Linked DNA regions of Homo sapiens. Changing the gene in region 1 together with any one later gene gives a genetic interaction. Each region holds a gene or a part of one and is shown on either strand. Other genes may lie near its edges. The genes, in order: HBS1L and CIT.

What was found.
Region 2: changes in HBS1L (region 1) and CIT together harm fitness more than expected from each alone (negative genetic interaction), as found in Homo sapiens cells (one large-scale study listed by BioGRID).

What each region holds. Positions count from the first base shown.
Region 1 is NC_000006.12:134,995,738-134,999,559, forward strand, and holds part of HBS1L (HBS1-like protein), read right to left. Parts: intron 1,920-3,822; coding exon 1,660-1,919; intron 1,206-1,659; coding exon 1,040-1,205; intron 1-1,039. UniProt on the Homo sapiens protein: GTPase component of the Pelota-HBS1L complex, a complex that recognizes stalled ribosomes and triggers the No-Go Decay (NGD) pathway.
Region 2 is NC_000012.12:119,870,717-119,874,538, forward strand, and holds part of CIT (citron Rho-interacting kinase), read right to left. Parts: intron 1-3,822. UniProt on the Homo sapiens protein: Plays a role in cytokinesis. Required for KIF14 localization to the central spindle and midbody. Putative RHO/RAC effector that binds to the GTP-bound forms of RHO and RAC1. It probably binds p21 with a tighter specificity in vivo.

The DNA.
Region 1 (3,822 bases):
TTACATTGTTTTCCAAAATTGGCAACTGTCCAGCTAATTTTTCTTACTAGGATAGAAAACAGGTCTGTGATACTATAAAGAACTAAAGACACCCACAAAGAAAGAGAAACCATTATGATACAAATTCTGGTTTATCAGAAGAGCTAAGGAATACTGTGACCTGCTTTACAGAGCGTTACCTTATATGTTTATAATGGAGACTATCCAAGACTGCAAGAAAATACACATTAAAAAGGCATGAAAATCCAGATATATTCTCCAATAATCAGATTGAAGACATCAGGGAACACAGTTTAATCTCGTTAATCTAGGACTTCCACAGGACTTTATAGGTTTGTAAAGAGTCATTATTTTGACACAGTTGATATATCTGCCATTTCACTAATTATTAAGGTGTCCTTTGGCTCTCCTACCCTAGCTACCCTAACATGATCTATACTGACACTCTAAAAGGACTTCAAAAGAAATACTATTCTTTGGCCAGACAGTAACAGAGACAGAGGAGTAACTGACTGCATTATAGCTACAGAATTACTTGTTTGCAGACTGTCTCATAAAAACATAATATGTAAAGTATAAAAATGAATTGTTTGGTAATTTGAATTTGCTGGTTATTTAGATTCTACACAGAAGAGGTTTTATGACAGTTACCTTTCCTTTGTAAGCTGACATGAAATTAAAAGTCTTACTCATAATTTTAATTCAAAATCAAGACAATTTGACAAATACTTAGGGAAGTGACAACTGAAACTTATCCCATAGAATAATCAGCTTATGATTTTTACTGTTGTTTTTCTGCATGGCTTTTATTTTGTTTCTTTTAAACATTCTTTTAATCTATTTCTATAAAATTCAGAAGAGTAAAAACAGTATGCAGATTACATCAAAAAAGTCAAAATAGTTCCCTGATATCTAAAAGCTATTTTCTAAAAATAATCTCTAAAGTATTTCATATGTTTTACAAATTCAACACATATTACACACTTATTTTAGAAGACTGTATGATTTCAAACTGAAAATTTTGAAATATAGTGACTACCTTTCCCTTTCTTCGCCAGTTTCATCCAAGACCCATGCATATGCAAACGAAGCTTTGCCAGCCTTTTTAGACTCCTGTTCATACTTATGCATAGTTCTTTTGTTTATATTACCCAGAAGATAAAGCATATGGCCCATCAGAGTACTTTTCCCAGCATCAACATGACCTAAAGAAAATTGATTCAGGATTAATACCAGGTACATTTCCAGATGTTCACATTGAGGCATTGCATAAATGTGTAATTCAATATTTCATGTCAGTGGTTTACAGTAATACCAGTATTTATCAAATGACAGTTAAAACATCTAATAGAAAAAAAAAAGAGCATATCTCTTTACAGACGGGGGGAATTTCTCAGATTTTTGGAAATTAAAATTGTCAACAAGACACGCCAATTTCAAAATGTTCACAAAATGAAAAATCCCACAATCAAGTGTAATGACCTCTTTGGTAACTTGGCATTATCTCTCCCCACATGACTAGAAAGCATTATGAGACTGTGCCTCCTTGCTCTCTGTCCATTCCACCCATGGAGAAACTCAGAGTTTCCATGCTGCCTCCAGACAGTGGGCAGGCTAAGGCATGGCTGGCTGACGATCCAGAGGGACAAAGAGCATTACCAATGACCACTAAGTTGAGTAGCTGCTTCCCTCCTTGCCGCTTCTCCAGTTCCGCCTTCACATCTATTTGCTGCCTCAGCTTGCCAGACTTTTTCACCGGTGCTGGGGTTGAACTCTGCTCTTCTGATGCTTGAATCGTGTGGGGTGGATTAGCAGATTTAGAAGCAGTCTCAAGAACATCGGAAGAAGCAATGGCATCTTCAATGGGCGGTCCTTTTTGAGGTGTGTGGAAACTATGACCATTTTCTTCAGAAGATACTCTACAGAAGGCAGATAGGAAAAAAGTATTTGAAACCAACTCTATTGATGTCCTACAATGACAGAAGGGCAGAGAAACTGTTTCTTCATAATCCTTTATGCTCCAGACCAGAAATAATCTCTGCTAAGTAGCTAAAGTCTGTTAAGGTGGAAATGATAAGTAGCTAGACTCAAACCACACAAATACAACCGTGGAAGATCCCATGAGAAAAACTGTACCAAAAATGAAGATAAGAAGAAAATAATGTTGAAAAATAACTGAAATTCAAAATCAAGCCCACAGTCTTGGCCATATAATCCATCCTATCAAAATCAATGGTATGAAGGAGATATTTTGTAAAATTGGCACCAAATATATTACTGGAGATGAATTAGTACTAAAATATAGTTTTACTTCAACTCATCCTTCCAACATGATAGACTTATGATCTTTTTTACTCAAATACTACCCCGAGGGGAGATATCTCTAAATGACTACAGTTCATAAACATTTTTGACAGTGGAGCTTTAATTCATTAATTCAACAAACACTTGATTTATTAAAAACTACAACATATACTAGGGACTGATGTCAAAAAGAAAATGACATAGAAATTAAAAAGTTAACTACCACTCTTAAAAGATTACAATCTAGTGAGGAACTCAGATATATAAAGGAGAAACAAGACTGCCCAGCTTAACTTATTCTTTCCTTAACAAAAGTAAACACTGATCTTAGTTCTTCATGAGCTCGTTGACACTCCACATAGAAACTAGTACCAGTGCAACTCTGAATAGCTATAAGGAATGTGACCTAATAATCAGACTATGATATGCCTCACTTTGCTTTAACAACTATGGATAAACAGAATTAGGACAAAGAGCAGGTTAAATTGGAAGTTATTAAGAATGAAACCAATTATATCCAACTCTATGTGGAGCTGGCAAAGAAAAACTACATATAGAAAGCAATTTATAATAATCATTTAAGATTGTAGCATGATGGATATGTGTAAGCACATCTATTTTCTTCTTGCCTATTATAACAAAAAATACATTGGTTTTTCCCTGTCAGGGCATTTTTATATGCCCAACATTAGCCCTTCACAATACGCCTCAGGAAAAGAGTCACAATAGTTATATTTGCAACTTTATTTAAAGCCACATATCCATTCTCATTTTATTTTGCTTTTTCAAATCTCCACTAACCAATTTAGGTGTTCATTTTTGAGCACTGCTTAGACAGATGCACTTCATCTTAAACTAGTAGGTAAAAACAGTAATATGCAGGAAATGTTCCCATACTTTTAAAGGATTCTAACAGGCTAAATTAAGTGAAATCAAACAGACTATAATTTGCAAATATTTGTTTGAATGACCACAGCTAGTTCTAAAACCAAAACTTGACAATTCTATACTTAGAAGAATTTTTAAAGCCCCACAAATTATAATACAAGTGATCTACTGTGACTAGACATAGGCTCTGGTCTGAATCAGACCTGGCAGAAATCACAATCTCGGGCCCCAGATCTTTTTGTTTTTAGCTGCAAAACATTTTCTTCAGAGGCAAGCTTGCATTAAATTCAATATGGAAAACAGATCAAAGCAGACAGCTATGGTGGACAGAGTGGGCAGGGGCTTGAAGCTCAGCTCCCCCACCAATCCAGGCAGCCCTCAGAGGGGCTGCCAGAATAGGAAGGGCTTCACAAAACAGGGCTGACTTGATCATTTCATCTGCAATTCAATAACATGAAAGGTTTGTTTTCCTCTGGCTTTCAGGATAGCATTTTCATTTAAGTAAATCTTTTTCTTTTCTTTTTTTTTTTTTTTTTGAGATGGAGTCTCCCTCTATCACCCAGGCTGGAGTGCAATGGTGCGATCTCAGCTCACTGCAACCTCCGCCTCCCAGGTTCCAGCAATTCTCCT
Region 2 (3,822 bases), on another chromosome or scaffold:
ATCATTTACATATTGTCTTTAGCTGCTTTTGTGCTACCATGGCCAAGTTGAGTGGTTGCAACAGAGACTACAGGACCCACAAAGCCTAAAATATTTATTACTTACAAAAAAAGTTACGAGTCAGCCAGGTGCAGTGGCTCACACCTGTAATTCCAACACTTTGGGAGGCCGAGGCAGGCGGATCGCGAGGTCAGAAGTTCGAGACCAGCCTGACCAACGTGGTGAAACCCCATCTCTACTAAAAATGCAAACATTAGCCGGGCGTGGAGGCACGTGCCTGTAATCCCAGCTACTCGGGAGGCTGGGGCAGGAGAATTGCTTGAACCCAGGAGGCGGAGGTTGCAGTGAGCAGAGATCGTGCCACTGCACTCCAGCCTGGGCGACAGGGCGACAGTCTGTCTTAAAAAAAAAAAAAAAGTTACGAGTCCTGGGCTATACTACTGAAAGACCTCATGGAGAAGAGAGGCCATGTGAGAAACACTAAGGTGCCCCAGCCAGCAGTCAGCACCCACATGTTCCAGTCCCAGACATAATCCCAGCTGAATGTAGCCCCACAAGTGACCCCAGCTGACATCACAGGATGAAGCAGAACTACCTAGCTGAGTCCAGCCAACCCACAGAATCCTAAGAAAAAATAAATCATTGTTGCTTTAAACTTTGTGAGTGCTTTGTTACACAGCACTTGATAACAGAAACAGACCGGCTGCATTTGAATCACAACAGCACTGGAGAATTTAAGAAAAACAAACAAACAAACAAACACATTCTCTGGTCCTATGCCCCCCTCCCCCACAACCAAATGAATTAGAATTTTCCAGACTGTAGCCTAGAATCTGTTTTATTAACAAGTTCCCCAGCAGGGAGAGGTGGCTCACACCTGGAATACTAGCACTTTGGGAGGCCAAGGTGGGAGGATCACTTGAGCCCAGGAGTTCAAGACCAGCCAGGGCAACACAGCGAGATCCCATCTCTACAAACAAACAAAAAAAAATTAGCCAGGTGTAGTGCCATGGTCCTGTAGTCCTAGCCACTTGTGAGACTGAGGTAGAAGGATCACTTGAGCCCAAGAAGTAAAGGCTGCAGTGAGCCAAGATTGTGCTGCCACACTCCAGCCTGGGCAACAGAATGAGACCCTGGTCCCCAAGAGAGTCAGACCTCAATCAGGTTTGGGAAGCACTGCATTCAAGGCCACCATATCTGTCACTTTAGTAATAGTTGCCAGTAACTCAGAAAAATAAAATGCTTTGTTTCTTCTATTCTTCAAGAGTTTAGATCAATTAAAGCAGGGGTTCCCAAATATAGTACTGGTTCTTAACAAAGTTTTCAACAGCCTGCAGTGAAATGAGAAAAAATGAACACCACATGATATCTTTTTTATAAAACTAAATGTATTCAAATTTAAAAATGGTCCTTTATTCTGAGATGATGTTCTTCCTGTCTTGTTGTTTCTTAAAATGCCCTTTATGAAATACAAGGGCCAGAAAATAATAGGTCTTTCTTTTTATTTTTTTTTTATATATCCTTACTTGGCAAAATAAAAAGTTGGAAAACCTGTGTCTACCCAGCAATTTGGGAAATTTTGCTGGCTCAGAAAGTCTGACAATCACTGACCTCGAACATGTCAGGAAATCCTGTTGAGTAGAAGTAAAAAAGACAAAATGACACTCAGTCTAAGGTACTCACCTGAATGGAAAACAAAATTGCTACTGTATCTCAACCTCATTCAAACAGCACTATATGGGAAAAGAACAAACAGCATCCTTACCTGATAACTCAAGGCAAATGATAGGTATATACTATACTTGCAATAATAGCTTTACTGGGCAGGGGGATCTCAGCATTAAAAAGAGATGAACTGAGGGTTTACCCATAAGTCTTCCTGTTATAATGACTAAATACAAGATATACTTAATAAATTCTGACGTGCACAGGTGCTGTGGCCCAATGGCTATGTGGTCAGCCTTTGGAGTCAGACCAACCAAAGATGGAGTCTGATCTTGGCCTCATCTGCAAAACCCAACGTGTATGATCTTGGGCAAGGCCTTACCTACCTCCATATCTGTCTATATCTGTTGCCTCCTATTTATGTATTTATTTAGAAACAGGGTCTCGTTCTGTTGCCCAGGCTGGAGTGCAGTGTTGCAATCTCAACTCACTACAACCTCTGCCTCCGGGGCCCCAGAGATGCCCCCACCTCAGCCTCCTGAGTAGCTGGGACTACAGGCACACACCGCCATGCCTGACTAATTATTTATATTTTTTGTAGAGATGGGGTTTCACCATTTTGCCCAGGCTAGTCTTGAACTCTTGGACTCAAGCAATCCACCTGCCTCAGCCTCCCAAAGTACTGGGATTACAGGTGTGAGCCACCACACCTGGCCTGTTGCCTCCTATTTAAAGTTTAAATTAAAAATAGTCCTTACCTCTGTCATGAGGCTGAAGTGAGATACTCAGAAACATGCCAGTTCTATGCCAGACACATTGGAAGCCATAACTATTACATAATCAGCACACTATAAGCCCTTAATAAGTTGGAAATTTTTTTCCTTTTCTTTTTTTTTTTTTTTTTAATTTACAGGGTCTTGCTCTGTCGCCTAGGCTGAAGTGCTGAAGTGCAGTGGCACAATCTTAGCTCACTGCAACCTCTGCCTCTAGGGCTCAAGTGATCCTCCTGCCTCAGCCTCCCGAGTAGCTGGGACTACAGGCACACACCATCACAGTCAGCTATTTTTTGTGTTTTTAGTAGAAACGGAGGGGCTCACCATGTTGCCCGGGCTGCTCTCGAACTCCTGACCTCAAGCAATCCACCCACCTCAGCCTCCCAAATTGCTAGGATTACAGGCGTGAGCCACCACGCCCAGCAAGTTGGAGATATTTTAAAGTAGCATGATAAAGGGGCTGAAACGTGGCAGCACTCCAGCCATCTAAGGTTAAAGACAGACTATTCATTTGTGAAAGATATGTCAAGACTTAAAATGCTGATGGGGATGGTCCCACAGAAAAACCTAAGCTTTCAATTTGTTTCCACTCTCATCTGTTTAAACACCCAATACCAATATTTTGGAAAAAAAAAAAAGTTATCAAGAATACTTCATCATTCATCATCTTACAGGTATCCTACATAACTACCTTCCCAAATATAATTACTATTAAGGAAACAAATTTAGTATTAATATTATAACTAATACTATTCTATGCTGAGTATTAACAATAATTACCATTTTTTATAAGGAGTTTACTAAGAGCCAGGCAAGGTGCTAAGTGCTTTAAATCGAATATCTCATCTAATCCTCACAACAACCCTGTGGATTAGGTACTACAACCTCTATGTTATTTTTTTTGTTTTCTTTTGTTTTGTTTTGTTTTGAGATGGAGTCTTACCCACTCTGTCGCCCAGGCTGGAGTGCAGTGCACCATCTCGGCTCACGACAACCTCCGCCTCCCGGGTTCAAATGATTCTCCTGCTTCAGCTTTTCAAGTAGCTGGGATTACAGGTACATGCGACCACCATGCCCAGCTAATTTTCTATATTTTTAGTAGAGACAGGGTTTCACCACGTTGTCCAGGCTGGTCTCGAACCCGTGACCTCAAGTAATCCGCCCGCCTCAGCCTCCGAAAATACTGGCATTACAGGCTACAACCTATTTTAAAGAATAGCAAATGGACTCAGAAAAGGTAACTGACTCACCCAAAGTAATGCAGCTAACTAGTGCTGGGACTGGGATTCAATTCTAAATCTTCATGGTCTCTATTGTCCCCCTGACTTACGAATACATAAATCAAACAAGGATTTCTACTTCACCAGTGTTCCACATACATCAG